Regions from separate parts of the Homo sapiens genome. Here region 2 is linked to region 1. Evidence: fine-mapped QTL for protein levels in blood plasma. A gene starts in region 1. The other region holds a variant in brackets. All regions are shown on one strand. Distances are between the middles of the regions.

Evidence for each region. PIP is the chance, under the fine-mapping model, that this variant and not a neighbour inherited with it causes the effect. The UK Biobank Pharma Proteomics Project read protein levels with antibody pairs (Olink). The fine-mapping took linkage between variants from a reference panel, not from the people measured, so its PIPs are less certain.
Region 2: its variant is fine-mapped to the plasma level of the PTS protein (UK Biobank, PIP above 0.99).

What each region holds. Positions count from the first base shown.
Region 1 is chr11:112,224,721-112,227,638 of GRCh38, forward strand. It overlaps PTS (6-pyruvoyltetrahydropterin synthase), which reads left to right and starts at 1,708. Exons shown (of 6, transcript NM_000317.3): 1 at 1,708-1,806. The coding sequence starts at 1,724. RefSeq lists silencers at 1,579-1,988, 2,346-2,640.
Region 2 is chr11:112,204,246-112,207,163 of GRCh38, forward strand. The region is part of intron 8 of BCO2 (beta-carotene oxygenase 2); the gene reads left to right. Among named protein-coding and RNA genes, the nearest start is that of PTS, 21 kb to the right of the region's middle. The variant G/C (reference allele first, on the strand shown) is at 1,619.

The DNA.
Region 1 (2,918 bases):
AGATGGATTAAAGACTTAAATATCAGACCGAAAACCATAAAAACCCTAGAAGAAAGCCTAGGCAATGCCATTCAGGACATAGGCATGGGCAAGGACTTCATGACTACAACACCAAAAGCAATGGCAACAAAAGCCAAAATAGACAAAAGGGATCTAATTAAACTAAAGAGCTTCTGTACGGCAAAAGAATCTACCATCAGAGTGAACAGGCAACCTACAGAATGGGAGAAAATTTTTGCAATCTACCCATCTGACAAAGGGCTAATATCCAGAATCTACAAAGAACTTAAACAAATTTATAAGAAAAAAAATCAAACAACCCCATCAAAAAGTGGGCAAAGCATATGAACAGACACTTCTCAAAAGAAGACATTTCTGCAGCCAACAGACACATGAAAAAATGCTCATCATCACTGGCCATCAGAGAAATGCCAATCAAAACCACAATGAGATACCATTTCACACCAGTTAGAATGGCGATCATTAAAAAGTTGGGAAACAACAGATGTTGGAGAGGATGTGGAGAAATAGGAATGCTTTTACACTGTTGGTGGGAGTGTAAATGAGTTCAACCATTGTGGAAGACAGTGTGACGATTCCTCAAGGATCTAGAACTAGAAATATCATTTGACCCAGCCATCCCATTACTGGGTATATACCCAAAGGATTATAAATCATGCTACTTTAAAGACACATGCACCTGTATGTTTATTGTGGCACTATTCACAATTGCAAAGACTTGGAACCAACCCAAATGTCCATTAATGATAGACTGGATTAAGAAAATGTGGCACATGTACACCATGGAATATTATGCAGCCATAAAAACGATGAATTCATGTCCTTTGCAGGGACATGGATGAAGCTGGAAACCATCATTCTCAGCAAACTATCACAAGGACAGAAAACCAAACACTGCATGTTCTCACCCATAGGTGGGAATCAAACAATGAGAACACATGGACACAGGGTGGGGAACATCACACACCGGTGCCTGTCAGGGAGTAGGGGGCTGGGGGAGGGATAGCATTAGGAGAAATACCTAATGTAAATGACGAGTTGATGGGTGCAGCAAACCAACATAACACATGAATACCTATGTAACAAACCTGCACGTTGTGCACATGTACCCTAGAACTTAAAGTATAATAATAATTAAAAAGAAAAAAGAAAAAGAGAAACGAGGGTCTTGCTCTATTGCCCAGGTTGGACTCCTGGGCTGAAGTGATCCCTCTCCTTCTCAATAGCTGGGGCTACAGGAGTGCGTCACCACGCCCGCCTGGCTCAATTCCTGCTCCTTTTGGTCTATAAAGCGGACTGTGGCCCTGGGGTTCATCCGATTGAGTCACCAGTCACTGGAGCTTTACAGGAGAGAGTGGGAGAGGAGGCTCAGAGAGGTCACTCAGGACCCAAAGTGTGCCCAGACGGGCCCTAACTACGTGGCGTGACCTCAGGCGGGGCAAACAGATCAAGGACACAGGGTCCCCACCCACCCTGACCACTCCAGGGTATGCTTAGGTATCCCAAATCTTGCTCTCCGAAGAGATTCAGATAGCGAGAGACACCCTTAACTGTCTCCCGAGGCCGGGATTGGCCAGAGCGGAAGCGGAGACGCACTTCCTAGGGGCGCGTCTGGCACGCACTGCGCAGCCGCGGTGGGAGGAGGCACCGGCCGCGCGGCGGGAGGAGGTGCCGGCCGAGCACCGCAGACAGCGCCGGGAAGATGAGCACGGAAGGTGGTGGCCGTCGCTGCCAGGCACAAGTGTCCCGCCGCATCTCCTTCAGCGCGAGCCACCGATTGTACAGGTAGGGTGTGCACACAGGTACAGCGGCGGGCGGTGGGCGCCGGGCCCCGGAACGTCACCGGGGCGGGGCCGGCGGGCGTGCTGACGTCGGGCCCGGGAGGGGCGCGGGGGCTGCTGGGGCGACGCGCGCTGGTCGGCTTCGTGGGGCTTCGGACGGCCTCCAGCATCCTGATGGGGGCTGGAGTGTCCCCAGCCCTGGAGGGGTGGGGGAGCTTGATGGTTAACGGAGCCGACTGCGGAGGGCGATGGCCCACGTCTGGGTGCGGGGCCCACACCCGGTTCTGCGACTCGAAGAAACGTCTCTGCCCCTAGGAGTCCCTTGGTGTAGACCACAGGGTTGCTGTGAAACTCAGCAGTGTTAAACTCGCCTATGTTACACAGTACCTGGCGCGGCGTAGACACTCAGTAAATGTTAGCTAATCTTGTATGCCAGGAGCATTGGCCACCATATCTAATGTAATTACAAGGCAAATTTTAGCCCCTTTTTTACCAAAGACTGGATGAACCCAGTCCCTGGTGGTCTAGTGGCTAGGAGAAAAAAAAAAAAAAATGAGCCCAGACGTTCAGTTTCCGAAGCAGCATAGTTGGGATTTGAATCCCGATCATACATACTGCTTGCATGCACTGACGAGTTGATTTTGAGGAATTTTACCACGCACTAACCAGCTCCACCCTCTGGCCCTCCGTATCGTCGTCTGTGAAATGAGGATGACCATCGCTATCTAACAGGATTCATCCCTCCATTCGCTAAACCAGGTTTTGTTTCGTGCTTGTCAGGGCTTGTGCTAGGTAACGGATGCATCAGGGATCTTGTATGGGGTTTCCAATCTGGCCTATTTTGTGGAGGGTACACTGAGAAAATTTTGTGCAAAAGACTTTAGCACTCTAAATACAAGAAGTGGCTGAGCAGGAGAAAGTGGGGGTGTGTTATTCCATTTTGCATTGCCACAAAGGAATACTGAGACTGGTATTTTATAAAGAAAAGAGGTTTATTTGGTTCTGCAGGCTGTACAAGAAGCATGGCACCAGCATCTGCTTCTGTTGAGGCCTCAGGGACCTTCCACTCATGGTGGAAGGCGAAGGGCGAGCAAGCAGGCAACTCACAGGGCAAGT
Region 2 (2,918 bases), 20 kb before region 1:
TTTCTAAGATTGAGTAATACTCCATTGTGTGTATATATCACATTTTCTTTATCCATTCATCTGTCAATGGGTATTTAGGTTGTTTCTGTTTCTTGACTGTTATGAATAATGCTACAATGAACGTAAGAATGCAGCTATTTTCATGAGGTGGTGATTTCATCTCATTTGAGTATATACCCAGGAGAGGGATTGCTGGGTCATATGTTGTACAGTTGACCCTGAACAACATGGATTCGAACTGCATGGGTCCTTATATGCAAATTTTCTTCTACCTCTCCACCCCTGAGATAGCAAGACCAACCCCTCTTCTTCCTCCCCCTCAGACTACTCAATGTGAAGACAATGAGAATGAAGACCTTTATGATGATCTACTACCACTTAATGAATAGTAAATATATTTGCTCTTCCTTATGACTTTTAGTAGCATTTTATTTTATTTTTTTTGAGACAGAGTTTTGCTCTTGTTGCCCAGACTGGAGTGCAATGGCGTGATCTCGTCTCACTGCAACCTCCGCCTCCTCAGTTCAAGCAATTCTCCAGCCTCAGCCTCCCGAGTAGCTGGGATTACAGGCATCTGCCACCATGCCCGTTGTATTTTTAGTAGAGATGGGGTTTTGTCATATTGGCCAGGCTGCTCTCGAACTCCTGACCTCAGATGATCTGCCCACCTTGGCCTCCCAAAGTTCTGGGATTACAGGCTTGAGCCACCACACCCAGCCTTTAATAACATTTTCTTATTTTCTTTTATCTGGTTTGCTTTATTGTAATAATACAGTATATAATACATATGAAATACAAAATATGTGTTAATTAACTGTATGTTATTGGTAAGGCTTCCAGTCAACAATAGTTTATTAGTAGTTAAATTTTTGAGTAGTCAAAAGTTATGTGTGGATTTTCGACTATGTAGGGGGTTGGCACCTCTACCCCACTCCGTGTTGTTCAAGGGTCATCTGTATTTTTTATTTCTTTAGGAACTCCTATACTGTTTTTCATAATGGCTGTACCAATTTATATTCCCACCAACAATGTACTAGAGTTCCCTTTCTTCTACACCCTTGCCAACATTTGTTATCTCTTGTCTTTTTGATAATAGCCATCCTTATGAGTGTGAGGTTTTATATAGTGGTTTTAATTTGTATTTCCCTTATGGTTAGTGATGTTGAGCACCTTTTTATATGCCTATTGGACTTTCAAATTTTATTTTATTTTTTATTTTATTCTTTTAGGGACAGGATCTCACTCTGTTGCCCAGGCTGGGTGCAGTGGCATGATCATAGCTCACTGAAGCCTCAAACTCCTGGGAACACGTGATCCTCCTGCCTCAGCCTCCCAAGTAGCTGGGTCTACAGGTGCGTGGCACCACACTCAGCTAATATTTTAAAAACTTTTTTGTAGAGACAGGGTCTTATTATGTTGCCAAGGCTGCTGTCAAACTCCTGGGCATGCATGATCCTCCTGCCTCAGCCTCACAAGTAGCTGGGATTACAGGTGCATGGCACCACACTCAGCTAATATTTTTAAAACTTTTTTGTAGAGACAGGGGCCTTGTTATGTTGCCAAGGCTTTTCTCAAACTTCTGGGCTCAAGTGATCCTCCTGCCTCAGCCTCCCAAAGT[G/C]CTGGGATTACAAGTGTGAGCTACCACACCTGGCCTCTATTTTTGGAGAAATGACTGTTCAGGTCCATTGCCCATTTTTTATTTATTTTTAATTAATTAATTAATTAATTTATTTTTAACTTTTAATTAAAAAGTAAACTTTAATATTGAAAATGCAAACTTGGGGAAGACAGAAAAGATCACACACAAGGCTGTCACTTCACACTTGGAAGGTTGCGCAGCGGCCAGGCAGAGGCGCTCCTCACATCCTAGACGGGCGGCAGCTGGGCAGAGGTCCTCCTCACTTCCCAGACAGGGCGGGGGCCGGGCAGAGGCGCTCCTCACATCCCAGACAATGTGGGGGCCAGGCAGAGGCGCTCCTCACTTCCCAGACAGGGCAGCGGCCGGGCAGAGGCGCTCCTCACTTGCCAGAGGGTGGGCGGCTGGGCAGAGGCACTCCTGGGGCGGCAGGGGCGGCAGCTGGGCAGAGGTGTTCCTCAGTTCCCAGACGGTGGGCGGCCGGGCAGAGGCGCTCCTCACTTCCCAGACGGGGCGGCGGCCGGCTTTTCCCATTTTTTAATTGGGTTATTTGTTTTTCTGGTATTGAGTTGTAAGAGTTCTTTATAAATTTTGAGGCCAGGTGTGGTGGCTCACGCCTGTAATCCCAGCACTTTGGGAGGCCAAGGTGGGAGGATTGCTTGAGCCCAGCAGTTCAAGATCAGCCTGGGCAAGATGGCAAGACCTCATCTCTACAAAAAAATTTAAAAATATACAAATTTTGAGTATAATTCCTTATTGGATATGTGGTTGCAATTTTTTTCCCCAGCCCATAGGTCGCCTTTTCGTTTTGTTGATTGTTTCCTTTGCTGTGCAGAAACTTTTAAATTTGATGTCAACTTGTCAGTTTTTGCAAGGAAAAAACCTGATACAATATTGCAACTGTAGATCAATTTGGAGACAATTGACATCTTTACAATATTGAGTCTTCCAATCCATGAACATGGAATATCCCTCCATTTATTTGGGTCTTTTAAAATTTCTCTCAGTAAAGTTATAGTTTTCAGTATAAAGATACTACATTTCTTTTTGTGTGTTTTGAAATTATTGTAAATGGTATCTTTTAAGCTTTCATTTTCTGTTTGTTGCTCTTTATAGAAATGCAATTGATTTTGTATATTATCTTCATATCCAGAGATCTTGCTAAATTCACTTATTAGTTCAAATAGTTGATCCACAGATTATTTTGGATTTTCTATGTGCACAGTCATGTTACCTGAAAATAATGACAGCTTTCTTTCTAATACTTAGGGCTTTATTTCTT